Linked DNA regions of Homo sapiens: regions 2, 3 and 4 are each reported to be linked to region 1. The links are microRNA targets in miRTarBase. Many come from high-throughput screens and were not tested one by one. Region 1 holds a microRNA gene; each other region holds the end of a gene's coding sequence.

Region 1 (7,112 bases):
GAATGGAGGATATGGGAAGGGGTTCTGGGGGCAACCCTGATCCTAAGGACCTGGGAGGCCTAACGGCTCCCCCACACCCACCCCCCAACCCCTCGGCGCCCAAGGCAGGGTCAGCCCCACTCTCAGGAGACGGGGGGTTCCTTCACTACCGGGGCCTTTGTGCTCCCAGGCGCATGGAGGAGGGCAGCCCCACGGTGCTGGAGTCTCCCCAACATGGCCTGCCCAGGCAGCACCCCGGCATGGTCCCCTGGGGCTGGGGCTCCGGGTCAGGCCTGGGTCCCACGGTACTTGAGGAAGGTGCTCTCCAGGAAGGCGGCCAGCTTCATCCGGTCGTCCTGCGGAAGGAGGGAGGCATGGGGGACGGAGGGGCGCGGCCTGCCCCGTGCGCCCCCTCCGCCAGGCCGCGCCGCACCGCCCAGCGCACCTCGTGGAGGAAGCCATAGTGCACGAGCTCCGAGGCGAGGTCCTGGGCGCTGTCCGCTGAGGCAATGGCGTAAGGCGAGGCATGAGGCCGCTGCCCACCCGCCGCCTGGGGTCACCGCCCGCCGCCCAAGTCCCCTGCCCAGCCTACTTGGGAGCAGGTCGTAGGTCAGCTGCCGGTGCAGCCGGTCTTCCAGCACCAGAAGCAGAGTGAGCTGGGGAGGCGGCGGGGCGTGGTCGGCTGGGGGTTCAGGGCTCCGCCACGCTCCCGCCTTCCCCACGGCAGCGCCGCCCTCCCAGGCCCCGCTCACATGCCAGCGCGCCTTGTCCTCGCTTCTCTCCAGGTTGCACTGCATCTGGATGACCTGCAGCGGGGGAAGGCTGGGACTCACAAACCCAGCAGCAAGACCACATGCCGCGGCCCCAAAGGGGCCGGGAAGGGACAGCAAAGACTGGAAAGGGGGGAATCTCTAAGAGGAGCCCATCTCACTGCTAGTGGCTTGGCAAGCTAAGGAAAGCTTCGAGAAGAGTCGACATTAGGGGCTGGGTACTGAAGGCTGAATAGGAGCTTTCACCGCGGAGAGAACAACTTGAACAAAGAGGGAACTGTGGGCGTGGGGAAAGGGAGGTTGGGCGGGACAGGACCGCGCCGAAGTGCACGGTGCCTGCGGGATCAGGCCTCCCAGAGCCTGGGTGTCAGCTGAGGACTCCCATGATCTCTGCTGGCAGCCAGGAGCAGGCAGTTTGCCTGTTAGGACATGAATTCTGGCTGCACTGCACCGAGAGAGGCCCCTGGCCAGGAGGGGGTGCTGCAGGAAAAGTCTGGGGAGACACCAGGACATAGATGTCCGGGAATCAGCACCAGGTGGGGGATGGGAGGGGTGGGGGGGGTGGGAGGGGTGCGGGGGTGGGGGAAGATTGCTGGCAGGGTGGAAGAGCCCGGGTGAGTTCTGGAGGAAGGATGCTTGGAGTAGGTTCAGGGCAGGCAGCAGGATGCAGGGGAAGGATCTGAGGGGACAGGGAGCCTCCCGGAAAAGGAGAGTGCCCAGCCTGTCCTATAACCCCCATGACCCCCACAAGGGGGTCAGCCTGGATCTGGTCTCTGGCAGCCAGGAGGAGAGCTGGGCTGTGGGGATGCAGGCCCTAAGAGAAGGAGGGGCACCTCTTATCTGGCTGTTAGAAGGTCTGAGGGATGGCACTGAGCAGCAGGAGAGGGGACTCACCTTTCTGGTCTCAGAGTCAAAGGGCTCTGGCGTCGGGGTCTTGGCCTTTTGGACCTCCTCCGGGGGTGGGGCCAGCACACGGGGCAGCCCCAGGGGTCGAGTGGCTGCAAAGTTCATCAGTGGGTAGATTCCATTCCTGGGGACACAACAGGGTGGCTGGGGGTTCAGGCCTGACAGCTGCCTGGCCCCCAACCTTACATCAGTTCTCACCTGACATCCTCCAGGAATTTGTCCAGCTCCATGAAGGAGACTTCCGAGTACCTGGCATGGAAGTGGGAGGCACATGAGGGGCTGGCCGGGGCGAGGGGAGGGGAGGTGCGGGGAGGGGAGGTGTGGGGAGGGGAGGCTTCTGGGTGCTGACTGCTCACCGCCACTGCAGCGGGGGCCTGCGGGGCCGGGGAAGCTCCGCCAAGACCGCGTGCAGGTCCATGGCCTTGGTCTTCTCCTCCACCACATTCTCAGGCATGAGGTCTGCGGCCACAAGAGCATCAAGGCGGTGTGCTCAGGCCGTGGGTCCTGCAGGGCCCCTTCCACGTCCCAACCTCCACCTCCCCAGCCACCCCCCGGGCCGGCCTGCTGCTCACACTGGTGCTGGATGAAGCAGTGGGCTGCCAGGAGCTTCAGCGAGTGCACCTCGAAGAGCACGCGGTGGAAGAGGAGGCTGTGGGCAGAGGGCCGGCGGGCAGGGTCCCGGGCCAGGCAGCAAAGGATGAACTCCTGGGGCACAGGGAGGAGAGGCTGGTGGTGTGCAAGGGCTCTCTGCTCTGGCCCCGCAGTTCGAGGAGAGGTGGCCCCTGAGTTCCCCATGTCCCTCCTCAGGGACACACAGGACATGCAGGGATGCCCATAGGGAGGAGTCCCAGCAGCAGCAGCCAGGCCAGGACCTGGTCCTCTGAGCTTGAGGACAGCTGGGTTCTGGGATTGGAGCACCATGCTCTGCTTCCCTCGACCCCCAAAAAATCGTGGGGAGAAGCCATGATCCTAAAGTCACACCTGCAAGCCTCCTACCCATGGCCTTTTGATCGGCTCAGCTCGGGCCCAACACTGGAGACGACCTTGATGGGTCCCCACTCTGTCCACATCCGTGCCCAGCCCGGCTCCAGCTCGCCACCAGCCCCGACCAGGCACCCCCATCTCCTGAGGCCATGGAGTTAAGTCTAGACTCCGAGCAGAGGGGGCTGTGGATGCAGCTTCCATCCCATACCTCTTTTTGCCTGCTTGGCACCCACCATGTCCCCCCACAAGCTGGAGCCTCATCACCTCCTGGAAGCTTAAAGTCAAGGACTTGGAGTGAAGCAGACCCAGGTGCAGATGTTGGCTCCACCACTCACTCTAAAGCCTTGGGCAAAGGACTCATCTCCTCTGAACCTTGGTTTCTTTATAAAACGGGCATGGTGATGGCAGCCACAGAGGGAGGGTCTCTCTTGCCTTCTTGTCCTTAGAATGTGCTGACCCCTTAGGGCCTTCAGGCCTGGAACCAGTATGTGCTCCCACTGAGGTCCTCTTTGGGAGGGGTGCAGTCAGCTGGTATACCCCTCAACTGCACAAACTGTGATGTTCTCCCAGGTCTGCCTGGAGCACCTTGCTAGCCCTAGCTGAGCACGGTGAGCCAGCTGGGGAGGGGCAGGGCAAGCTGCTTACCCGCATGTTGGGGTCACTCAGCGAGTGCCTGGCGCGAGCAATGGCCTCCTCTGTGACCCGGGTGTCCCCATTGGTCTGGATTTCCAGTACAGCCATCTGGGGCACAGAGCCAGGTCAGGCATGGGGAAGGGACCACACAGGTGAGCCAGGCAGGGCACAGTTAGGAGGAGGGCAGAGCACAAGGTGGAGGGCGGGGGCAGTACCTCCAGCGCACACATCCCAAAGGAGAAGATGTCCACAGCGGTCCCATCGGCCACCTCTGAACAGAAGAGAGCACAGGACACGTAGGAGAGAAGCGCAGGGTAGGCACGGGGCACCCGGACCCAGCACCACTCACCTCCATACTCTGGGGGGAAGAAGTGCAGGTTCCGAAGTTCCTCTCGCTCAGCGCGGATGGGGCTTCGGAGATCATCTGGAAGTGCTGTGGGAGGGCGCAGAGCTGAGCGGGCGGGGACCTCTCCAGGACCCCGTCCCCCCAAAGTCCGCACTTACCATTGGAGAAGATTCGGTGCCACACTGCCAAGGGGCGGGAGAAAGAGTGGAGTTAGCTGCTGGGGCATCAGAACTCCTCTGCCCTTGGCTCCAGGCACCTTCCCCTGCCCCGTTCCCCCACCCAGCCCTGCCCCGCCAGCACCGGAGCCGATCTTGATGAGGCCGTTGTGCTGAATGAAGATGGTGTCGCTGGTCAGGTTCCCGTGGATGATTGGGGGGCTGCAGGCGTGCAGGAAGCTGCAGACGTTGGGGAGGGGAGAGTAGGAGGAGCCGGTCAGGAGGCTCTGGAGAGATGGGGGCTCGGTGGCGCCGCGCCCAGGCCAGCCCAGGCCCTCACCTGAGCGCAGACAGGATCTGCGTGCACCAGCGCTTCCAGGCCTGGCGGCGGACGCACGACTCCGTCGGTCGGGTGGGCGCAGGAGAGGCGGCTGGGCCTGCGGAGCCCGCCCCGCATCCTCGCCCAGCCCCTGTCCGAGGCCGCCGGGCACCCCCTCACCATCCCAGTCCCCGAGGCTGCCCCAACCCCGTCCTGTCCCCGTGGCTGCCCCAGCCCGCTCCCCATACCCGGGCGTTCATGGCCTTGTGGTTCTTCTTGGTCTTTTTGAGGAATTGCTTGAGGCTGCCTGATGACACGTACTCTGTGATGAAGATGACCTGCACGGTGCGAGCTCAGGATTTCCACCAGCTGCGGGTTCGTCCCCATGCCCGCCCCACCTAGCTGTGGTCTCTGCCTGCCCGGGGCCTTGCCCGTGCTCACCCTCGCGCAGGCCTCAGAGGTATCCAGCCAGTACTTGTGCAACTTCACGATGTTCGGGTGGTCCACCAGCACCAGCTGCTCGAACACGGTCTGGATCTTCTCCTGGGGAGGGAGGGTGGTCGCTGGGTGGTCAGCAGGTGGTCACCCAAGCAGGATGAGGAGGGGGCAGCGGTCTCACCTCGTGCGCCGCGAAGGCCTTCCTGTCTCCGAAGTGGAGCTCGTTCCACACCACCTCTACCCCCTCCTCCGTGTCCATGGCTAGGAAGGTGCTCTGAAGCCCTGGCATGTTCCCTTGGTTTACCTGGGGGTGAATAAAGGGTTATGTGTGCCCTGGTGTGTGTCAGGGTTGTGGGTGAGGATTTGGTCCCTGTCCACACCTTTCCAGTGGGCCCAAGCGTGGGCTGCAGGCCCTGAGCCACTCTGCGGGAAGGTGGGGCTTGGAGGGTAGCTGCCCCCAGGAGCCAAGGGCTCCTATCCAAGGGCTGGGCTAAGGGGATTTGGAGCAGGTTTCAGGGGGTCGAGGGGGATCCCCAGGAAGCTAGCGGCTGAGTCCAGAGGCATGGGGAGGTGGTCCTGGGAGGAGACTGGCCCTCAGGGAGTCCCAGGGCGAGCGCCAGGCCAAAGGGGTCCAGGGGTGGCTGATTCGCGGGCCGCGAGGGGCCGCGGAGAGGTTTCCAGCCGCCGCGCTCTCCCAGCGCCCCCACGCCCCGCGCAGCCTCCAGGCCCCTCCCGCTCTGGGAGGGCGGTGTCACCCCGTGCCCCAACCCCCGCGCCCACCTGCTCCCGTCGCTTTTGCCAGCGACCACACGGGCTTTCCTCCAGGATGTCGCTCTCGTCCTCGCTCTCGTCCTCCCGCTCCCGCTCCCGTTCCCGGGCCCGCCTCGGCGCCGGCTCCGGGGCCGCCATGGTTCGGCCAGCCCAGGCCACCGCCCTCTGCGCGATCCGCCGCCGGCGCAGCCTCTCCCGGCCCGCCCTGGCCTCGCGCCCAGCAGCCCAGCCTAGAGCCGCCGCGGCAGCCTAGAGCCCCAGCCCCGGCTCTGGGAATTGGGAGGCGCGGGCGCGCGGCGGACGGGCGGGGCCCGGGGGCGGAGCCGGCGCGCACCTCCCGAGCCGCCTGTGCCTGCCGGAGCCAGAGCAGAGCTTCCCCGAGAGCTGCCGAGCCCGGGCCGCGCCCAGGCCCCGCCCCCCCGGAGGCCCCGCCCCGCGAAGCCCCGCCCCAGTCCCTGTTTCCTCCTCGTCTCCCAGGCCTGCTCCGCGAAGCCCCTCCCCAGGCCCTGTCCCCTCCTCGTCCTCCAAGCCTCCTTCGCGAAGCCCCGCCCCAGGACCCGCCCCACCCCCGCGAATCCCCGCCCCGTTTTAGTCCCCGCCCCCGCCCGTTCCCAGGGTCCTCCGCGAAGCCCCACCCCAGGCCCCGCCTCACCTCCTCGAAGCCCCGCCCCTATGAGGCCCCGCCCCGCGCAGAGGAACCGCCCCCAAATCCCCGCCCCCTCGGAGGCCCCGCCCTGCGGACACCTGGAGCCCGGAGCGCCCACTTCTCTCGCGGTTGCTCCCCTAGGATCTGGGGGAAGACCCGGGGCATCTGGGGGCCCCCAAGCCCACGGCACCCTCCAGCTGCAGAAGACCCCGCGGGCTCGAAAGCGGGACCCGCTCTCCTGGCCACGCACTCATTCCCCGGCCGACCCCCAAGGGACAGGTCGAAGGGGCACCGAGGGCGGGGGAAAGGCCCACCAGCAGGCTGACCCAGGCTGACTTTGATCGGTGACCACGAATCTCTCCCTGGCCCGCCCACCAGTGCCTCCTCCCGCCCACAAGCCCATCTTCTCACTTTCCAGGATGGCGATTTTCTCTTTTCTCCTCAAACGCGCATTTCCTTTCCGCGGCTGGCTCCCATGGGACAGTGGAACCATGAGGGGGGAGCCCACCCGGCTCACACGACCTCTCCCTCCGGAGGCCGCTCTAAGCACACCCTCCAGCCACGCCGACCACCGGGGCTGTCCCCGATTCTCACCTAAAACCCCCTTCAGCCCACAGCCCCCACGGCCTTCCTGTGGTCTCCTCCCTCCTTCACGGCGGGTCCTCATCCTTTACCTTCTCTCTCTGGAGCCCAAATTGGAACTCCGCTCCTCCCCTCCGCGCAGCTCCATGCACTGGCCCTTTGGGACGCCTCTTTCTTTCTTTGGCAGAGGTGCATCTGGCCCTGCTGCGTCCCCTGTGGTCTCTCTTTTCTGACCAGCCTTGGTCACCAGGCACCTTGTGTGTGGTTTCCACCAATGCCAGGTGATCCTGCTGAGGCCCTCTGCAGTAAAGGTTTGGGGTGTTCAAATCCTCCACCCTGAAACTGGCCCTGACCAGCTCCTGGGAGACACCCTCTAAGCCCTTGGAATGTTCTGCCTGATTTGAATGTCTGTGTTTACCTCGGCCACACCAGATTCTATGCTAAGCTTGTCCAACCCGCAGCCCAGAGGGTGCATTCGGCCAAGGACAGCTTTGAATATGGCCCAACACAAATTCATAAACTTTCTTATTGAGATTTTTTTTAAAGCTCATCAGCTGTTGTTAGTGTTAAGTGTATTTTATTT
Region 2 (7,112 bases), not on the chromosome of region 1:
TGTCCTCCCTCCTGGCTTCCCTGGCCTGGCTCCTGGCCTTCGTCTACAACCTGCCGCACACGGTACTGACTAGTCTTCTGCACTTGGGCCGCGGAGTCTTGCTTTCATTGCTGGCCTTGATCGAAGCCGTGGTCCGGTTCACATGTGGGGGCTTGCAGGCCTTGTGTACTCTGCTGTATAGCTGCTGCTCTGGCCTAGAGAGCCTAAAGCTCCTGGGGCACCTGGCCTCTCATGGGGCACTGCGGAGCAGGGAGATACTGCACCGGGGCGTCCTCAATGTGGTCTCCAGTGGCCATGCTTTGCTGCGCCAGGCCTGTGACATCTGTGCCATTGCCATGAGCCTGGTGGCTTATGTGATCAACAGCCTGGTCAACATCTGCCTCATCGGCACTCAGAACCTCTTTTCCCTGGTGCTGGCCCTGTGGGATGCAGTGACCGGGCCTCTGTGGAGGATGACGGACGTAGTGGCTGCCTTCCTAGCCCACATTTCCAGCAGTGCTGTGGCCATGGCCATCCTCCTTTGGACACCCTGCCAACTAGCCCTGGAGCTGCTGGCCTCAGCTGCCCGCCTCCTGGCCAGCTTTGTGCTTGTCAATCTCACTGGCTTGGTGTTGCTAGCTTGTGTGCTGGCAGTGACGGTGACTGTGTTGCATCCGGACTTCACCCTGAGGCTGGCTACCCAGGCACTCAGCCAGCTCCATGCCCGGCCATCCTACCACCGTCTTCGAGAGGATGTCATGCGGCTCTCTCGCCTAGCACTGGGCTCAGAGGCCTGGCGCCGAGTCTGGAGCCGCAGTCTGCAGCTGGCGAGTTGGCCAAACCGGGGAGGGGCACCTGGAGCTCCCCAGGGTGACCCTATGAGGGTATTCTCAGTTAGGACCCGGAGACAGGACACTCTTCCTGAAGCGGGGCGCAGATCAGAGGCAGAAGAGGAGGAGGCCAGGACCATCAGAGTGACACCTGTCAGGGGCCGAGAGAGGCTCAATGAGGAGGAGCCTCCAGGTGGGCAAGACCCTTGGAAATTGCTGAAGGAGCAAGAGGAGCGGAAGAAGTGTGTCATCTGCCAGGACCAGAGCAAGACAGTGTTGCTCCTGCCCTGCCGGCATCTGTGCCTGTGCCAGGCCTGCACTGAAATCCTGATGCGCCACCCCGTCTACCACCGCAATTGCCCGCTCTGCCGCCGGGGCATCCTGCAGACCCTCAATGTCTACCTCTGAAGCCTCCTTCCCTGCCTGCCCACCCCTCCATGCTCCACGCAGGCACTCACGCTAGGACAGCATTAACACCTCATCTCCGGGTCCTGGTCTGAATCCCCTCCTACCCCTGTGGCCATCCTGCCATACATCCAGGACATTGAGTTGGAAGACTATGATCTGGGTGGGGGCAGGATAACATGGCTTCTCTTTACCCAGTGGGTCCCTTCGATGCTGAGGGTGGTGAGTATGTCACTATGCAAGGGCCCTGAGACTATTTGCTGTGGGCTCTCCTCCAGCCTGCCCAGGGCCCACCCAGATGCCTCTGGGGTTACCCCTGTCTGCTTCTGGTTTTTCTGTTGGAGATCTATAGGTCCTTTTCCTGCCTCCTTCACATTTCCTCCCCAGCTTTTGCGGCCACAACACATCAGTGTCATTTGGGTGTTTTGGCAACTCAGGGGCCTTCGGATGATCTTAAACCTTTGTGTTCAGCCAGAGCCCCTGTGCCCTGGTAGGCGTTGGGGTTAGTATCTCTCGGGTGCCCTCAGAGCCACCTCTGCCTGTGATCGTCTGATGAGGCTCCCTCCCAACCTGATCCAAAAGCCAGTCTCAGGAGTTTACCCCTGGGATGGGGGATGCATCTGCACCTGACTTTGGGGCCACGTGCCCTGTGGCACCCCAGCTCACTGGGAGTCTCAGGAGGGATAACCGGATTTCTGCTCTTTCCCCTGTCACTCCCACATCACACAGAAAAATGGCATTCCTCTCTGTCTCTCCCTGGCATGGAGAGGGCAGACTGTGCACATTTCACTAGGGTCCAAATACAGAAGGGCCCAGGGCCCAGGGGCTTGCAGCTTCGTGAGGGGTCTCTGGCCCAGTTTCCAATGAATAAAGTTCTCTTGACAGCTCTGACAGTCTCTGTGTGCATCCCTGCAAGGGAGCAGTTGGTCAAGGCAACAGACCTTGCATCAGGGTCCTTCAGCCCCGCCAGAGTCAGAAGTGTGGGCTGTGGGGGTACCTGGGCTTTAGAGGGGGGACAGGGAAGGAGCTAAGATAGGCTGGGAAGACTATGTCATGGGGAGAGTGCATGCCAGGCATGGCTCTGTGAGCTCTCATCCCTTCTGATTTGTCCCCTCTCGCAACACATGGCTTTCGAAAAGCCTTCTATTTTTTCTGTTTTTTCCCAAATTAAGCCCTTGTAGAGAGGAATGTGAACCATCTCACCCCTTGAGTCAACCTTCCCAGCTCCTCCTCCGGGCCAGTCTTCCTGGGAGGGAGCATGGGGTTCCTCCTGCCTGGAGTCCAGTCTGCCCTCGGATCCCAGGAGGAGCTGGTGTGTGTCTCTGTGTGTCTTGGCATGGGGGTCTGGTGCAGGGCTGGGCTGGAGTGCGGCTGCGGGATCTCCTGGTGGAGGCTGCCTAAGGCCTGTCTCTGGCTCACATTTGGGGCTGAGTCCCCATTGGCCGTATCTGCCCTCACATGACCAGCAGAAGAGCAGGGGCACTCCCCCATAATTGTATGTTCTGTCTGGGACCACAGTGCCTGGGACTGCCTTCAGGAAGGGGGTGCCGGTAGCTCAGAAAGAAACTCTGAGGAGAGGCCCCCCCCCTTCCTTGGGTTGAGGCTGTGCAGATGGGGCTGGGCAGTCCTGGTTTGTTAGTCATTGGGTTGGGGGTGGGCTCCAGGGGTGGGCGGAGCCTTGAGGGGCTTTGTGGCTAGCCTCAGACACAGTGGCTCGGCCCACCCAGGCTATGCCCAGCACAGTGGGGGAGGGCTCCTCATCTCCACCTCAGAACTGGGAGGGCTTGGCACTTGCTCTTTCCTTCCCTCAATCCGGGACAGGGAGCTGAGCAAGGGGAGGCCTGGCTCCTTCCAGTCTCTGTTTAATGTGGAGATAAACATTTTATGATAGAAGATAAACTTCCTGAGTTGGGAGTAAAGGACCCCCCCTTTTCTTCCATCCGCATCTGGAATTCCTTTGGCCGACCTCAATACCCCTCCTCTCCCTCACCCCCCCATAGTCAGGAGCTCAAGCTACCCAGGATCCCTGCGGCATTCTGGGGCCAGGGCACCCCCTTGTGGTCATCTCAGAAACTGCTTATCTTTAGACGCCCGAGGACGCCACTCACTCGGGTTACAGAGCAATAGCTTTCTGCTCATCGGGGGCAGGCAAGCAGCCGGAGCAGCCATGGACGAAAGTCCTCGGCTCTTTTTTGTTGGATGAGGGCAGAGGTATGTGTGGCGCAGGCAGCCCCTACGTGGTTCAGTTGGCATCTTTGAATTAGAAAAAGGTGCTCCCTTTCTCAAGGATGGATGGAGCCCCACACCAGGAGGGCATCCCGCTGTCAGACACTCCCATTCACAACCTAGGTGGCGGCTCTGTGGAGCAGCCTCTCATTCCCCTGGGCCGGCTTCTTGTATATCTGCCGCATATCTCTATTTCATCCAAGAACCCTCCCTTCTGCCTGAACACCCCCTCCACACCATGATCCCAGAAACAGGGAGCCCCCACCACTAAAGAAGAAAGGCTGGAGCCGGTAGGAGGGTTCTTAGGTTTATTGAGTGATCTCTGAGAAAAGGGCCGGCCCCAGGAGCAGGAGGGGGTGGGGAGGATCCAGAGAAGCAGAGGACCAGGAAGAGAGCACCCCACCGTGGGCTCCTGGACCAGAGCAACTGGGGGACTTACACTTGCCAGCACAGCACACTCCTCTGGTCTTGGGCAGAAATCCAGCCACTGCCCCATGCTGCCAGACCTGATCGCAGACAGCCACTGTTCCCATTCCTTGCCAGCAGCAGGACGGAGAGTGCTCTACCCCACCTCCCTAGTCATTCACAATATTCCAGGGGGGCCAGCCCTCCTGGATGACCTGGTTGTCAGCCTCACACCCTCCTTCTAGGAGTGAGAGCATGAGCTCACTTTGCAGTGGGCACTAAGCAAAGACTGGGGAGCTGTGCCAGTCGGAGTACACCAGAAATCCGGAGAAGGTGCTGTCTGTCTTGATGCTGGCATAGATGCCAATGTAGTCACCCACACCCACCTGCACCCACACTTGGTCCTCAGGCTCCAGCCTCACCATGGCCCCCCCCGAGAGCGAGGCTGGCTTGGGCCACCCCCCGAAAAACTGGAAGAAAGAGGCAATGGATTCGCCATTCTTCACCAGATCAAACTGCAGGCTGGCCCGGTAGACGGTGGCATGGACGGCGAAGTAGTAGACCCCAGGCACCTGGCAGGTGAACTTGCCGGTGACGGCGTCGTAATGTCCCTGCTCGTTCACCAGCACGCGGTCGAAGGGCAAGGGTGCGTCAGACGGCGGAGGCACCCGGCTCTCGGAGCGCTTGGCGCTGAAGGCGGATCGCGGAGGCACCGAGCACTCCCCGGCAGGCCCGGTGGGCCCCGCGGGTCCCGCCTCTCCTCGCGGCCCGGGGTCCCCTCGAGGTCCCGGCAGTCCTGCGGGGTAAGCGGGGCGGCAGGGTGAGAGTAGCGGCGGCTCAGCCCGCAGCGGGGCGGCGACTCTAAGGTCACCGTACCCCTCCCCGCCCCTGCCTGAGCTTCGGCCAGCGCCTCCTCCCGCACGGGTACCTCCTCCACCCCTTCCCGCAGGGCAGATCTGGGGGGCTGGCCAAGGGGGCTCCCGCCGCCTGGGCCCCTCCCCCGCTCAGGGCTGCAAAGCGCGGGGAGTGGCGCCCCCTGGCGGGAGACCCGAGTCCCGGACACCGGGAGCTGGAGCTGCGGCCGCGCCTGCTCGGACATCGCCACCGATAGCCGCGGCGGTGCCTTCTTACCCGGCCTCCCGCCCTCGCCTTTCTCTCCCGGAGCCCCGGGCGCGCCGTCGCGGCCGTCGCGGCCATCGCGGCCCGGCAAGCCCTGGCTGCCATGGTGGCCCGGCGTGCCTGGAAGGCCGGGGTGCCCCGGGCAGAGGCTGGGGATCTTGTTGTCGTCCAGTGGGGGCGAGCCGGCCGCCAGGCCCAGGAGCAGCAGGACGAGGAGTGGCCTCATAGCGCTGGCACCGGGAGCCCGGACGCCGGGGTCCTCTCGCAGTCTGTGGACCAGGCAGGACTGGAGTCGGGACCCAGAATCCTGGGACCTGCCTCTCTCCCCACCCCGGCGCGGCCCAGTCGGTCCCCACCCCACTGCCGTGCCCCTGAGGCTGAGCGCTCGCAGGGCCGAGCATCCGGAGAGCACAGGCAGGCGCGAGAGGGTGGGAGCGGCCAGCCCTCCCTCCCACCGCCGGCCCGCGCCAGCCTTTCCCACAGTCCCCTCCCCAGCCCCTTTCCCCTCCTCCGCCAGACTCACCCCCCCTCCCGGCTCCCCGATGGCCTCCTTCGGGGCGCTCGCTACTCCGGACCCTCCAGTTGGTGGTGCTCCAGCCCCCGCGCTTCTCCCCGGCCAGGCGCCCCCTGCCCTGCCGTCACCCCAGTCCTGGTTCGCTCCCTGCCGGCTCCGCTTTCCTCCTCCCAGACTCCAAGAGGAAACCAGTTGTTCAGGGGCCAAGAGCTCCCGGACCGGGAAATAGCTGGGAAATAACTCGTGGTGTCGCCCGGCGGCCGGCCAAAGTTTAGGGGGAGAAAGGAGGGGGAGAGAGACTTGAGCTGGGCACAGAGAGGCAGAACTTCGAGAGACGGACACACAGGGCACCTCCTGTTCCCAGGGCCAGAGGAGAGGCAGGGCAGTGGCAGAGACCAAGGACCAGACCCCATTTCAGGGAGAAATACGCAGAGAGATGAGGGTGGAGAGTTCTAGAGGCAGACAGCCAGTTGGATCCCTAGGGCCTAGGACAGGGGCCTGCCACATGAATAGATGCTCAGTACATTTTTGTTGAATCAAGGAAAAGGTCAGAAGGCAGGCGATGGAGAAGCTGAAAAAGCAGATGGAAAGGGGAAGAGGCCTGGATGGGAAGTGGTCTCGATTGTCCGGTGGCACAGTGTGGGGCCAGTCAGCAGCCTGGGACCGGTAAAGGGACAGGAAGGAGCAGGGAGGGTGGTAGGGTCCCATGAGCCCCAGCTGAGGACTTCTCTTCCCCCTCCCTGGGAGCCCCAGAGAAGGATGGGTAGAGACCCTGCTGATGCTCCTTCCTTTGTTCCCCTGCGTGCCAGCCCTGACCGGCAAAAGAGGACGGGCAGGAAGAGGGCAGGGGCCGGCTTCAGGGTCAGGGCTGGGCACAAGCTTCCAGGTCAGCTGCCTCTGGCAGCCTGTTGCAGTTGAAGGGCCAGGGGGTGCCCAGTAGTGCCAGGCCAGACTGGCACTGGTGCTCCGCTTCCTGGCAGACAGAGCGGCAAGGGGGCAGAACACTGCCTAGTGGGGTGCAACGGGGCACAAGCAGCCCACACAGGAGCCTCCGGAAATGCTGGTAGCAGGGCAGGCTTGTCAGGCTCTGCGGAGGGAGAGTGGCCTTCAGGCACCTGCTCCCAGGCTCCTCCCCTCCCAGGCCCGCCCTCCTTCCCTCCACCCAGAAGACCTTGTAACCGCTGAGGACCTCTACCACCTCCTCCTGGGTGATCATGCCCACCCAGATGTTAGGGAAGGCTGTGGTGTTGTAGCTCAGACCGAGGCACATCTCCACCTGGACAGGCTCACAGGCCAGCTCTGCAGGGGTGGAGGGGAGGGCCACTGTGGGGACTGCTCACTGGCTCTGTGGCCTGTGGCAAGTCACCGAATCGCTCGGTCCTGTGTGTACATGGGTCCAATGGGGGTGGTTGTGAGGAAGCAAGAGGATAACAAAGAGACAGGCTGTACACACTCTGAGGATCCCTGCCATCCCTGAGAGCCTGCTCCAGCATCGCTTGCCAGCCCTGGGCATCATGCAGGCACGTCTTTAATCTCAGGGAACATGGGGCACCCGCGTTTGCAGGGACTGCTTGGGCATCTGGAAGAAACCCCCTGCTCTGTGTAAGAGGATGCCTTCATCTTTGGTGTGGGCT
Region 3 (7,112 bases), not on the chromosome of region 1:
TTTTCTCTCCACCATGAGAGCTTTTAGCATTTAGGGTGGGGGGGTGGGTAAGAAATGGTCTCAGTGAAGTGAGGGAGGCAGTTGGCACAGATGAATGAACTGAAGGTCCCTACCCCATCCAGTTTCCGCAAAGACATTTCATGAAGTCATTCAGCAAGGAACCCACTTTCTCAGACTGTTGATTTCTTAATTTGAGGAGTGTTTCTCAACTGGTGATTTTGCCTTTAAGGACACATTTGGCAATGTCTGAGGACATTTTTGTTTGGCATTCTCAGGGGTGGTGGGGTGTTGATAGCATCTAGAGGGTGGAGGCGGGGTCTCTGCTCTGCACAGGAGCGCCCCCTCCAGGAGGATGATGCAGCCCCAATGCCAATGGTGCCAGGGGTTAGGGGCCTCCACCTAGAGTCATGCTTCTTCCAGCGTCAGGGGCAGGGAGACATTGGCACGGCGGGGAGAAATATTCTCAGAGAACCAAACAGTGAAAACCGCCAGGCAAAGGAGCTGATTTAGAATATGGAGGGTGCAGATTAGGGACAGACGCAGAAATGAGGTGGTGATGTTTACTTGGGGTGATGGGGTGGTCCATGGGAAGTCTGGTGTGTCCAGTCAGGAGGGGACAGACATGTCCCTACTTCCACCAGTATAGACACGGCAGTCATTGCTCTTGGTTTTTCCTCTTCAGGGAGAGGACTTTCTGCTACACAAGAGTATTGACGTAACAGGTGACCCAAACTCTCCGAGACCCAAGCAGACCTTGGAGAAGGATCTGAAGGAAAACAGGGAAGAGAACCCAGGACTGTCATCCCCAGAGCCTCAGCTTCCAAAGAGTCCCAGTGAGTATGAAGACTTGGATCCACAGGGGTTAGTCCCTCTCTTCTGGGGTGCGGGGCTGGGGGCCCAGCATTATCATCCCCTGGGGCTGGCGATCAGCTGCCAAAATCTCTCCTCCACTTTCCAGAGACCTACAGTCCAATGTCTTAGGCTTGAGGTTGAGGGGAAGTTCTCAGCCAAGGTCAGTGTTTGGTTGCAATGAGTTTGGTGTATTGAAAATCGGCTTTGTTAACTGTTGTGTGTGGAATCCCTTCTTCCACCAGATCTGGTGAGAGCAAAGGAGGGGAAGGAACCCCAGAAAAGAGCCTCTGTGGAAAATGTGGATGCTGACACACCTTCTGCCTGCGTTGTGGAGAGAGAAGCTTTGACTCACAGCGGGAACAGAGGAGATGCTCTGAATCTGAGCAGTCCCAAAAGAAGCAAACCAGATGCCTCCTCCATTTCCCAAGAAGAGCCTCAAGGAGAAGCCACACCTGTGGGCAACAGAGAATCCCCAGGACAAGCTGAGATCAATCCAGTTCATTCCCCAGGCCCTGCGGGCCCGGTCAGTCACCCAGATGGCCAAGAAGCCAAGGCCCTGCCGCCCTTTGCATGTGACGTGTGCAATAAATCATTTAAGTATTTTTCCCAGCTAAGCATCCACAGGAGGTCACACACAGGAGACAGACCCTTTCAATGTGATCTCTGTCGGAAGCGCTTCTTGCAGCCCTCAGACCTCCGAGTTCACCAGCGAGTCCACACTGGCGAGAGGCCCTACATGTGTGACGTCTGCCAAAAGCGGTTCGCCCACGAGTCCACCTTACAGGGCCACAAGAGGATCCACACCGGGGAGAGGCCGTTTAAATGTAAATACTGCAGCAAAGTTTTCAGCCACAAGGGGAACCTGAACGTTCACCAGCGCACCCACTCCGGAGAGAAGCCCTACAAATGTCCCACCTGTCAAAAGGCCTTCCGTCAGCTGGGGACATTCAAGCGTCACCTGAAAACACACCGGGAAACCACCTCCCAGTGATTCCAGAGTCAGGTCCACATCCTCCACCCCAAGAGACAGTGAATGATGGTTTTTCTCCAATGTTACCAGATGACATATACACATAAAGCACTTGGTAGGAATTGCCCGGATGTTTGAATAAATATTTATCCTCCCCCATGAGTTTTGTTTTCTGTTTGATTATGTCTGTTGCTTTCTTACAGATTTATTTTAGTGTCTGTTGCTGTTTCTCTTCCAATGAGCAAAGTCTCATCATTTTCCAATATCTCATAAGAAAAAAACTAAGCACAGTGGCACGCATGTGTAATCCCGGCTACTGGGGAGGCTGAGGCAGGAGGTTTGCTTGAGTCCAGGAGTTTAAGTCCAGCCTGGGCAACACAGTGAGACTCCACCCCAAAAATAAGTAAAGAAAAAGTTCAAGACCAACCTGGGCTCAAGCGAGTGAGACCTTGTCTCTATAAAATAAATAACTTTAAAAAATAACAAAAAATAATAATAAGTCTAACAAATATTCCACAGACATTTATGGAACACTTATCAGCTGATATTCTAGGCACTTGGTATATATCCTTAAACAAAAGGAGATGTATTAAAAATAAGAATAAAAATTAGAAGTAAGGCTGGGCCTAGTGGCTAATGCTTGTAATCCCAACACATTGGGAGGCTGAGGCAGGAAGATCACTTAAGGCCAGGAGTTCGAGACCAGCCTGGGTAACAGTGAGACCCCCATCTCTACAAAAATAAAAATAAAAATTAGCCGGGTATGATGGCACACCTGTAATCCAAGCTACTGGGGAGGCTGAAGTGGGAGGATTGCTTGAGCCCAGGAGGTTGAGGCTGCAGTGAGCCATGATTGCATCACTGTACTCCAGACTGGGTGACAGTAAGGCCCTATCCTAAAGAGAAAAATAAAAGAAAAGCTGACATGACTGCCTAAATATTGTATTCATGGCATAGATGCAACAAATTTTTTTAATGCAATCATTGGACTTGGGCTGCTAAAAAAATATTAGAAGGCAATAATTTATTTATTTATTTATTTATTTATTTATTTATTTATTTATTTTTGAGACAGAGTCTAGCTTTGTCACCCAGGCCGGAGTGCAGTGTCAGATCTCGGCTCATAGCAACCTCTGCCTCCCGGGTCCAAGCGATTCTCCTGCCTCAGCCTCTCGAGTAGCTGGGATTACAGGCGCCTGCCACTGTAGCAGGCTGAGTTTTGTATTTTCAGTAGAGATAGGATTTCACCATGTTGGCCAGGCTGGTCTCGAACTCCTGACCTCAGGTGATCCACATGCCTCGGCCTCCCAAAGTGCTGGGATTACAGGTGTGAGCCACCGCGCCTGGCAATTTTTGTAGTAGAGATGTAGTAGAAATTTTTTTGATAGAGATGGGGTTTCACCATGTTGGCCAGGCTGGTCTTGAACTCCCGACTTCAAGTGATCTGCCCACCTTGGCCTCCCAAAGTGCTGGGATTACAAGCGTGAATCACCGTACTTGCCCAGTAAATTATTTTTTGATAAGAAAAAAGAATCCCATCACATAACACTGCTTCAAAACCTCACTGCAAAGCTGGGTGTGGTGGCTCACACCTATAATCCCGGGACTTTGGGAGGCCCAGGCAGGCGGATCACTTGAGCCCAGGAGTTAGAAACCAGCCTGGGCAACATGGCAAAACCCCATCTTTACTGAAAACACAAAAATTAGCTGGGTATGGCGGTGCATGTCTGTAGTCCCAGCTACTCAGCAGGCTCAGGTGGGAGAATCACTTGAACCCAGGAGGTCAAGGCTGCAGTGAGCCAAGATCTCCCAACTGCACTCCAGCCCAGGCAATAGAGTGAGACCCTGTCTAAAAAAAAATCTCACTGCAGCCTCTCGTATTAACTTAATCACTTTAAGTGATTGCTTCTCCCAGGGACGTGAGTCTCCAGCAGGGCGAGAACTCATCTGCTTTCTGCCTCCTTGAATCCCCGACATTTGACTCTGTATAATTATTATTTTTATTATTATTATTTTTTTAGTCTGAGTCTCGTTCTATCACCCAGGCTGGATGGGGTGCAGTGGCACAATCTCAGCTCACTGTAGCCTCTGCCTCCTGGGTTCAAGCAATTTTCACGTCTCAAGCCTCCGAGTAGCTGGGATTACAGGCACCTGACACCACACCCAGCAAATTTTGTATTTTTAGTAGAGATGGGGTTTCACCATGTTGGCCAGGCTGGTCTCGAACTCCTGACCTCAAGTGATCCTCCCGCCTCGACCTCCCAAACTGCTGGGATTACAGGCGTGAGCCACCATGCCATGAATAGTAATTAATTAATATTAATTACTTATTAATTATTTATTGTAATTTATTGTAATAATTATAATTAATTACAATATTAATGAATAAGTATTAACAATATTAATACTTATTCATTATGCGAAGAAAAACCTCAGGATTCCCCAAACTCCTTATGCAAAAGGAGAGGTCAGCCTGGTGGCTGAGTCAGGCAGCGCCCTCTTCCAATTGGACAGCAGTTGCTGGCATTTGGCATCAGCCAGATCCCCACGGAAAGGGAAGAGGCCCCGGGCATCCACGAATGCCCCCGCAAATCATTCATAAGGAAATTCTTTGCTGACTTCCCATAAACAAGAACTCACCCTTTGTAACTTCAGGTCTACAATGTAAGTCTAGCTCCTAAAACTCAGGTCTGTTTTATTCCACACTGACAATGTCCATTACTAGCTTATCTTCTGAGGCGTGGAACAAAGATAAGATGAGCTCAGTCATTCCTCCACCTACCCAAAGATGTCTAAGTAATTGGTGCTTCCTTTACTCCCTTTACGCCCTTTTTTGCCTTCAAACATGCACTTTATCTTATGTAAAACGTTGCACTTTGGGAGCCCAAGGCGGGCGGATCACTTGAGGTCGGAAGTTCAAGACCAGCCTGGCCAAAGTGGTGAAACCCTGTCTCTACTAAAAATACAAAAATTCACCGGCCATGGTGGAAGGCGCCTGTAATCCCAGCTACTCAGGAGGCTGAGGCAAGAGAATTGCTTGAACCCGGGAGGCAGAGGTTGCAGTGAGCTGAGATTGCGCCACTGTACTCCAGCCTGGGTGACAGGGTAAGACTCTGTCTCCAAAAAAATAAAAATAAAAACATAGGCCGGGCACAGTGGCTCATGCCTGTAATCCCAGCACTTTGGGAGGCCGAGGCAGGCAGATCACGAGGTCAGGAGATCGAGGCCACCCTGGCTAACACGGTGAGACCCCGTCTCTACTAAAAATACAAAAAATTAGCCAGGCATGTTGTCGGGTGCCTGTAGTCCCAGCTACTCGGGAGGCTGAGACAGGAGAATGGTGTGAACCCGAGAGGCGGAGCTTGCAGTGAGCCGATATCACGCCACTGCATTCCAGCCTGGGCGACAGAGCGAGACTCCGTCTCAAAAAAAAAAAAAAAATTAAAATAAATAAATAAATAAAAAATAGAAACATATATTTTTTTTAAATGTAGATTTACTGGGCACTAACTAAAGACTGATAGGAATTTAACCATTCAGCTCACCACCTACCCACCCCTCTGCCTCTATGCCTGCCCCCGTCTAAGGAAATGTATAAATAGTAAATATCCTGAAAACTTCAGAAAAACAGCCACAGAGGTGTCTGTGGCTCACCTTTCCCTGGACGTGCCCCACAGCCGATTTCATAAACCTCGATGGATGGAGACTGACAGTGTCTCAGTCACTCATTTTGGTCATTAATTACTTTGAGTCTCACTTTGTTGCCCAGGCTGGAGTGCAATGGCACAATCTCGGCTCGCTGCAACCTCTGCCTCCCGGGTTCAAGCGATTCCCCTGCCTCAGTGTAACACTGTGGTTTCTTTTTCCTGTGACTCCTCAAACCCAAAATGAAAGTAAAACTTTCAGCAAAACAATAATCCAAAATGGATTGCCTCCAATAGGTTATATTTTCCCCAGTCCCTCACCTGATTCTGTCATCCTGGATTTCCCAGTCCCACACCTGACCCCATCATCCTGGATTCTGCTACCCCTAAAAAAATTCCCAGACTAATTAAAAGGGAAAAAATGGAGTGTTTGACAAGAAACATTTTATTCTCTCCATTCTGCTCCAAACTGCCTCTCCTCACTTCTCGAGGAGACTCATGTGGGTTGAAAGAATATGGAGGAGTAAGTACGCAATTTGAAGAATCTTTTCAAATAAAGACACAGACTCTCAGACTTAAGAGGGTTATTTGTATTATGCAATAGCTCGTGTTATAATTGGGATGATTCCAAAAGAACACAATTCCTTTAAATGTGTTGCAGGAATATTCCCTGATTACCCCAGAATCTCCCAACTAGTCCTCGAATTACTATTGGTTCCATTAATAGCACATTATACTGATTTCAAGGATGAATCAATAAAACCTAAGAAACTCCAGAAATTTTTTAGAATAATTCAAATGCTTTACAATGTCTTCATGAGACCTGGGTATTTAACTTCAGGATCTTAGTCTCAGCATAGGGTACCTAGAAAAGGTTTCAGAGGGAGCAGGAGGAGCTGGAGAAGAAGGATAGGAACAGGGATTTGAAGACATCTATGACTTCAGGACATCTTCCTCCTTGGGAATTTTCATGCTGAGCATGCCCAGATCTGTGGGAAAGAAAGAGGTAAACTTTGAATGGTTTTTCTCACTATCACTCCCCACCCAGCTAATTTTTGTATGTTTAGTAGAGATTGGGTTTCACCATGTTGGCCAGGCTGGTCTTGAACTCCTGACCTCAGGTGATCTGCCCACCTCAGCCTCCCAAAGTGCTGGGATTACAGGCGTGAGCCACCGTGCCTGGCCCCTTCTCTCTACTTTCATCTGCCCACATATTCTCCCTTTCCGCCCACATTTTAAGAAGGCACATGGTGATGGTGGGTGTTTTCAAGAGTCAGAATGTAATCGAGGTGAGGATGGAAATTAGTGAATTCAGGGAGCGTATCATACCCAGTATTGTCCAGTACATGCTTTTGAAATGAATTAGTGCTGTTGAAATAAGGACATGGCGTCTCCAGGAATTGAGTTAGGATTGAAGAAGGAGCTGGGCGCAGTGGCTCATGCCTGTAATCCCAGCACTTGGGGAGGCCGAGGCAGGCAGATCACGAGGTCAGGAGATCGAGACCATCCTGGCTAACATGGTGAAACCCCGTCTCTACTAAAAATACAAAAAATTAGCCAGGCGTGGTGGTGGGCACCTGTAGTCCCAGCTACTCAGGAGGCTGAGGCAGGAGAATGGCGAGAACCCAGGAGGCAGAGCTTGCAGT
Region 4 (7,112 bases), not on the chromosome of region 1:
TTTGCCCCAGGTCTGGAGTTAAGGAGCTAGGGGACAGGGAGCCATAGGGGATGGCTGATATCGGAACAAGATGGGCTTGGCAAAGAAAGGGGCTGGCGGGAAAAGAATGTTGGATGAAAGCGAAGAAGGGGGATGGGGCTCAGGGAGGTCAAGTCAAGTGAGTGAGGAGGAGGAGAAGCTGGCAAGGGAGATGGGGTGACGAGGAAAGACATGACCATCCTTCCTTTCCTGCTACTGGCTCTTGGAAGAGTTGAGGGGGGGTGCGCAGGCAGTGCTATGGCGCCCGACTTTCCACCCCAGCTTTCTGACAGCTTGCTTCATGGCTGGTGTTTTGCAGGTGTGAATGAGGCAGGATGAACTGGACAGGTTTGTACACCTTGCTCAGTGGCGTGAACCGGCATTCTACTGCCATTGGCCGAGTATGGCTCTCGGTCATCTTCATCTTCAGAATCATGGTGCTGGTGGTGGCTGCAGAGAGTGTGTGGGGTGATGAGAAATCTTCCTTCATCTGCAACACACTCCAGCCTGGCTGCAACAGCGTTTGCTATGACCAATTCTTCCCCATCTCCCATGTGCGGCTGTGGTCCCTGCAGCTCATCCTAGTTTCCACCCCAGCTCTCCTCGTGGCCATGCACGTGGCTCACCAGCAACACATAGAGAAGAAAATGCTACGGCTTGAGGGCCATGGGGACCCCCTACACCTGGAGGAGGTGAAGAGGCACAAGGTCCACATCTCAGGGACACTGTGGTGGACCTATGTCATCAGCGTGGTGTTCCGGCTGTTGTTTGAGGCCGTCTTCATGTATGTCTTTTATCTGCTCTACCCTGGCTATGCCATGGTGCGGCTGGTCAAGTGCGACGTCTACCCCTGCCCCAACACAGTGGACTGCTTCGTGTCCCGCCCCACCGAGAAAACCGTCTTCACCGTCTTCATGCTAGCTGCCTCTGGCATCTGCATCATCCTCAATGTGGCCGAGGTGGTGTACCTCATCATCCGGGCCTGTGCCCGCCGAGCCCAGCGCCGCTCCAATCCACCTTCCCGCAAGGGCTCGGGCTTCGGCCACCGCCTCTCACCTGAATACAAGCAGAATGAGATCAACAAGCTGCTGAGTGAGCAGGATGGCTCCCTGAAAGACATACTGCGCCGCAGCCCTGGCACCGGGGCTGGGCTGGCTGAAAAGAGCGACCGCTGCTCGGCCTGCTGATGCCACATACCAGGCAACCTCCCATCCCACCCCCGACCCTGCCCTGGGCGAGCCCCTCCTTCTCCCCTGCCGGTGCACAGGCCTCTGCCTGCTGGGGATTACTCGATCAAAACCTTCCTTCCCTGGCTACTTCCCTTCCTCCCGGGGCCTTCCTTTTGAGGAGCTGGAGGGGTGGGGAGCTAGAGGCCACCTATGCCAGTGCTCAAGGTTACTGGGAGTGTGGGCTGCCCTTGTTGCCTGCACCCTTCCCTCTTCCCTCTCCCTCTCTCTGGGACCACTGGGTACAAGAGATGGGATGCTCCGACAGCGTCTCCAATTATGAAACTAATCTTAACCCTGTGCTGTCAGATACCCTGTTTCTGGAGTCACATCAGTGAGGAGGGATGTGGGTAAGAGGAGCAGAGGGCAGGGGTGCTGTGGACATGTGGGTGGAGAAGGGAGGGTGGCCAGCACTAGTAAAGGAGGAATAGTGCTTGCTGGCCACAAGGAAAAGGAGGAGGTGTCTGGGGTGAGGGAGTTAGGGAGAGAGAAGCAGGCAGATAAGTTGGAGCAGGGGTTGGTCAAGGCCACCTCTGCCTCTAGTCCCCAAGGCCTCTCTCTGCCTGAAATGTTACACATTAAACAGGATTTTACAGTAAATGAAGAGGTGGCTTGTGTGTTTGTCAAGTTCTTTCTCCTGCAACCTCTGACCTCCCCCAGGATGAGCTGGCCTTGGTTTTTTACTGATTAAGAAAGGAACAGGGCAAAAGAAGTAGTTACTTGAGTAGCTGAAGCTGCAAATGAGGAAATCACTGTACTTCTGGGCCGCAGAGCCAGCCCCGGAGCCATTCCTCCCTGTTGCTTTTGTTGTTGTGGTTCTTGTCTTTTTCATTGTCTAATAACAGCTTTATTGGGATTTAGTTTACATACCTCCTTCCTCTGATTTTGAAAAGATTAAAAATGACAACTCCCTCTGAAGAGACAAGAAATGATTGGGAAATTTCTCCTGCCCCAGAGAGTGGCACAATTCCCTGGGTACCTCGGTGAGAGCCCCTCCCCCGCACATCTGGAGACCTATCTCCTTACTCCCTCCAAACTCAGCATCCCCTACAAGCTGATGTCCCACAGTCCACCTGTTGGGTTGCACGATGACCCTGACCCCTTTCAGCTGGACAGAGCCCCTAATTTCATCCTCTTTCCCAGTTTCCTTCTCTCAGGAATCAATGCTTCCCACTCCAGAGATGCCTCCACACAGGTCAAACATTTCATAGCAGCAGTTTCCTCACCAGCATCACCCTCCCCTGTCAGCTGTGGTAGGAAATGCCCCAGGCTGAGACTTGGAAAAGCTGCGCTGGAGTCCTGATGCTGTCACTTAGTAGCGGGGCATTCCCTTCCCCGAACCTCAGCTTCCTTATGAGCAAACGAGAACTGGCCCAGCACATCTCTCAGCTCCCTTCAACACTCTGTGCTTCTGGGATTCCTGAAAGATTTCCCCAAGTAACAGTGCATTATCTTCCCCCAGCCTCACAGGGGTTTCCTTAGAGTCACTGCCCCCACAAATAGCCTCTCAGAGTAAAAGTTTCCCCCATGGCAAGTTTGCCTCCTCAGCTTCCTTACCTCCGAACAGGAGAAATTATTTGCCACTCCCTCTCAGAGTATGTGGACTCCATGTAGGAAGTGCTGGATATCAGAAAGGGAGAGAAAATCAGACACAATCTCATGTGAATTGTTCTCCCTTGAGACAGTTTTTCCTCTTTGGAGAGAAAGCATGGAAGTTTTCTTTATTTGAGATTTCTCCTTTAGAAAAAAAAAAAAGGAAGACTGGATGTGGTGGCTCATGCCTGTAGTCCCAGCACTTTGGAAGGCCAAGGGGAGAGAATCACTTGAGCCCATGAGTTTGAGACCAGTCTGAGCAACATAGAGAGACCCCATCTCTACAAAAAAAATAAAATAAAACAATTAGTCAGGTGTGGTGGCATGTGCCTGTAGTCCCAAGCTATTTCGGATGCTGAGGTGGGAGGATAACTCGAGCCCAGGAGGAGGTTGAGGCTGCAGTCAGCTGTGATCACGCCACTGCACTCCAGCCCGGGCCAGAGAGTGAGACCTTGTCAAGAAAGAAACAAAGAAAGAAAAGGAAGGAAGGAAGGAAGGGAGGGAGGGAGAGAGGGAGGGAGGGAGGGAAGGAAATGAGACCTTTAGAGGCCGAAGCAAGAGGATTGCATGAGGCCAGGAGTTCAAGACTAGCCTGGACAGCATAGCAAGATCCTATCTCTATTTTTTTTTTTTTTGAGACGGAGTCTCGCTCTGTCACCCAGGCTGGAGTACAGTGGCGCGATCTCGGCTCACTGCAAGCTCCACCTCCCGGGTTCACGCTGTTCTCCTGCCTCAGCCTCCCGAGTAGCTGGGACAATAGGCGCCCGCCACCACGCCCGGCTAATTTTTTTTTGTATTTTTAGTAGAGACGGGGTTTCACTGTGTTAGCCAGGATGGTCTCAATCTCCTGACCTCGTGATCTGCCCGCCTCGGCCTCCCAAAGAGCTGGGATTACAGGTGTGAGCAACCGCGCCCGGCCTCCCATCTCTATTTTTAAAAAATTGAAAGAAAGAAAGGAGAGAGTAAGTATTCCTTTCCACCACACTTAGTAATCCCTGAGAGAGAGCTTCCTCTCCCTTAAAAGAGGAACATTCCTTTCCTACAAGAAATTTCCTTTCCCCTTAGAAACTGACATTATGTTCCATCAGAGGAGAGGTCCCCACCCCCTCACGGTGAGAGAGATTCCTTTTCTTATCGAAATCCATCCTTTTCACCCACAACAATACAACAAACACATCCCCTCTCCATACAACATGCCATCAGGAGAAAGATTTTCTTTTTAAAATTCCATCCTGGTCCTGGTCGGAAGCAGGGAACCTCATGCCCTCTCCACATTGAGAAATGCTAACCCCCACCATCACATCAGAAATGTAGTTTCTCTTCAAAGATTCTACCAATCCCCCTTGGAAAGAGGCTCCAACTCTATATCAAGGCTTTCCTCTCCAGGGGGCAGTGGTGGGACAATAAAGCTATCAGGCTGGGTGTTACAGCCCAAGTGGGGGACACAGGATTCTTGGGTCCCATGAACCAGGTAGGAACAGGCCCAAGGAACCTTGAGGGGAGCTGGTGGACACAATGTCTCAGGGAGGTAGGAGGCAGAGTTAGACTGACTCCAAGACTGACTTTTCAAATCAGGCTCTGTCACAAGAGTATAAGAGAGAGACACAGAGGCAAATGAGGCATGCTCTCTGCCACGCAGTAGAAATTCAATGTGCTGAGTGACCTGGGTTATGAAGAGGACACTGGAATTAGGAGACCTCGTTCTCCACTGATGAGCTCTGTCCCCTTGGACACGTGATATTTACCCTCTCCAGGTCTGTTTCCTCATCTCCAATAGAGAGTTAATAATAACCTCTCTACCTCTTTCACAGAACTTTTTTGAGAATCAGACAAGATGTGTTCAAAAGCTGGTTATGAACTAACGGTAAAGTAAGGTAAGATAGTATCATAAGCACTGAGACCATGGCCTTACGACATGCTAGAATTCTCAATGAGCCAGAAAGGAGTGAGGCTGGTTCAGGTAGGCTGAAGCTAGTTAAAACAATTTGGCAATAATAGTGTTGGCTCCCCCAGGGAGTGGACACCAGTCCAAACAGCAAAGTCCAAGAGAGGTTGCAAACCTGAGCATGATTCATTTAAGGGTCAATATTCAAGGGGTCTGATCAGGGGGCAGAAAAGGCATAGTAACAGGAAGCTCTTGCATGCTGTATCTCATGGAACTGGTCCTTTTAGGAATGTCTATGATCTTTTAGAGGTGTCTATGCACAGAGATGCCAGGAGCTGGGGGGCAAAGGAACAGAGGCAGATGAACTAGGAGAGTAATCAAGGCCTCCAGCCAGCTGAGTTGGGGTTTGAAAGCAAGCTGTGGTATCCATAGAGAATTGGCATGGCAACCACAAACTGGTTCAGATGTTCAATCAGATAGCCTGGGTGCACACAGTGGGGGCTAGAGGGGAATGCTTGCTCCATTTACTGATTCCAAAGTACTTAAATGCCAGACCTGGCCTATGGTGCAGAAGGGGCTACACAATCGTACCAAGCTAAGCTCCTGTTGATTCCTGGAGTAGGCCAGGGAGAATGTACAGGGTCAAATGGAAAATGGATTGGGACATTCCAGCAAGGGGCAAATAAAACAGACAAAAAATACCCTACAGATATGACAGGAATTGGCTGGGCACAGTGGCTGTTGCCTGTAATCCCAGCAATTTGGGAAGCCAAAGCAGGCAGATCACTTGAAGCCAGGAGTTCGAGACCATCCTGGCCAACATGGTGAAACACTGTCTCTACTAAAAATACAAAAATTAGCCAGGCGTGGTGGCACATGCCCATAGTCCCAGCTACTCAGGAGGCTGAGGTGGGAGAATTGCTTGAATCCGGGAGGTGGAGGTTGCAGTGAGCCGAGATCGCGCCACTGCACTCCAGCCTGAGTGACAGAGTGAGTGAGACTCCATCACAAAAAAAAAAAAAAAAAAAAAAAAAAGCCAGGCACGGTGGCTCACGCCTGTAATCCCAGCACTTTGGGAGGCCGAGGCAGGTGGATCACTTGAGGTCAGGAGTTTGAGACCAGCCTGGCCAACATGGTGAAACCCCGTCTCTACCAAAAATACAAAAATTAGCCCCGTGTGGTGGCGCACGCCTGTAATCTCAGCTACTTGGGAGGCTGAGGCATAAGAATCGCTTGAACCTGGGAGGCAGAGGTTGCAATGAGCCGAGATCATGCCACTGCACTCCAGCCTGGGTGACAGAGCGACTCTGTCTCAAAAAAAAAAAAAAGGTATGACGGGGGTGATACCTTCAAACTTGTGTGTTTGGAAGGTCAGCCAGCAGCTGCATGGAGACTGGATTGGGGATTGAAGACTGAGACAGATTGACCAGGTACTGCCAGGTGCAGTGGCACACCTGTGGTCCCACCTACTTGGGAGGCTGAGGTGGAAGGATTCCTTGAACCCAAGACTTTGAGACCAGTCTGGTCAACATAGTGAGACCCTGTCTCTAAAAAAAAAGACCAGTTATGGAGCTGTTGCAATAGCCCAAGTGGCGCCTGTAGGACTAGGACAGTGGCAGAGGAATATGAAGAGGAGACAGGTGTGAGAGACATTTTGGATGTAGAACCTACAACAGGACTTCATGTCTGAGTTGTGGGGTGTGGAAGAGCCAAAGGTAATTTGAGGTTTCCTTTCCCTCCTTTGACTGGAAAGCTCCTAATCATTCAAAACTCATCTCAAACGTCGTTTCCTCTGTGAAGCCATCAACTCTTCTTTCCCCGCTGATCAAGTCCCTTGGAGAGACTCTCCAATTCAGACCTCCACTCTGAATTCCCACAATATGACTGTGGTGTATGTGATAAGAGCGCTTATCACATTATATGGTGCCAGGTGCGGTGACTCACACTTGTAATCCTAGCTGCTCAAGAAGATGAGGTGGGAGGATTGCTTGGAGACCAGCCTGGACTACACAGTGAGACCCCATCTCTAAAAAATACCACCACCACCACCACCACCACACACACACAAAAAAGAAAAGCACACAGGCCAGGCACAGTGGCTCACGCCTGTAATCCCAGCACTTTGGGAGGCTGAAGCAGGCGGATCTGTTGAGGCCAGGAGTTCAAGACCAGCCTGGTCAATATGGCAAAACCCTGTCTCTATTAAAAATACAAAAATCAGGCAGGCGTGGTGGTGGGCGCCTGTAGTCCCACCTACTCAGGAGGCTGAGGCAGGAGAATCAGTTGAACCTGGGAGGCAGAGGCTGCAGTAAGCCGAGATCGTGCCACTGTACTCCAGCCTGGGTGACAGAGTGAGACTCTGAAAAAAAGGAAGGAAGGAAGGAAGGAGG

The links. The annotated mature microRNA hsa-miR-6845-3p reads CCUCUCCUCCCUGUGCCCCAG and lies in region 1 at 2,361-2,381, opposite strand. An mRNA with a match to its seed (bases 2 to 7 or 8) in the 3' UTR can be bound and repressed. Matches are read on the target gene's strand: a 7mer-m8 pairs with bases 2 to 8, a 7mer-A1 pairs with bases 2 to 7 and ends in A, and an 8mer does both.
Region 2: the mRNA of MFRP is a reported target of hsa-miR-6845-3p. Seed matches in the 3' UTR shown: 7mer-A1 at 4,998-5,004 and 7mer-m8 at 4,601-4,607.
Region 3: miRTarBase lists GALP as a target of hsa-miR-6845-3p. Seed matches in the 3' UTR shown: 7mer-m8 at 5,940-5,946 and 7mer-A1 at 5,916-5,922.
Region 4: the mRNA of GJB1 is a reported target of hsa-miR-6845-3p. Seed matches in the 3' UTR shown: 7mer-A1 at 1,727-1,733.

The regions. Positions count from the first base shown.
Region 1 is chr8:143,835,396-143,842,507 of GRCh38, forward strand. MIR6845 (microRNA 6845) reads right to left here and starts at 2,421; the gene lies at 2,361-2,421. NRBP2 (nuclear receptor binding protein 2) reads right to left here and starts at 5,578. Exons shown (of 18, transcript NM_178564.4): 1 at 5,311-5,578; 2 at 4,712-4,834; 3 at 4,534-4,635; 4 at 4,341-4,430; 5 at 4,114-4,154; 6 at 3,919-4,013; 7 at 3,777-3,800; 8 at 3,622-3,705; 9 at 3,488-3,543; 10 at 3,285-3,380; 11 at 2,228-2,360; 12 at 2,012-2,114; 13 at 1,854-1,904; 14 at 1,644-1,779; 4 more. The coding sequence starts at 5,439. The coding sequence ends at 267. RefSeq lists enhancers at 1,426-2,153, 5,465-6,195, 6,196-6,925 and a silencer at 5,480-6,039.
Region 2 is chr11:119,335,208-119,342,319 of GRCh38, forward strand. It overlaps MFRP (membrane frizzled-related protein), which reads right to left. Exons shown (of 15, transcript NM_031433.4): 12 at 6,650-6,777; 13 at 5,488-6,565; 14 at 4,977-5,233; 15 at 3,735-4,641. The coding sequence ends at 6,341. It overlaps RNF26 (ring finger protein 26), which reads left to right. Exons shown (of 1, transcript NM_032015.5): 1 at 1-2,102. The coding sequence ends at 1,217. C1QTNF5 (C1q and TNF related 5) reads right to left here and starts at 5,676. Exons shown (of 3, transcript NM_001278431.2): 1 at 5,488-5,676; 2 at 4,977-5,233; 3 at 3,735-4,641. The coding sequence starts at 5,190. The coding sequence ends at 4,124. RefSeq lists a silencer at 4,795-4,894.
Region 3 is chr19:56,184,558-56,191,669 of GRCh38, reverse strand. It overlaps GALP (galanin like peptide), which reads right to left. Exons shown (of 6, transcript NM_033106.4): 6 at 5,895-6,455. The coding sequence ends at 6,400. It overlaps ZSCAN5B (zinc finger and SCAN domain containing 5B), which reads left to right. Exons shown (of 5, transcript NM_001080456.5): 4 at 683-833; 5 at 1,095-1,984. The coding sequence ends at 1,843. Among named protein-coding and RNA genes, the nearest start is that of ZSCAN5B, 9.7 kb to the left of the region's middle. RefSeq lists a cis regulatory region at 4,171-4,769.
Region 4 is chrX:71,223,355-71,230,466 of GRCh38, forward strand. GJB1 (gap junction protein beta 1) reads left to right here. Exons shown (of 2, transcript NM_000166.6): 2 at 338-2,162. The coding sequence starts at 354. The coding sequence ends at 1,205. Among named protein-coding and RNA genes, the nearest start is that of GJB1, 3.7 kb to the left of the region's middle.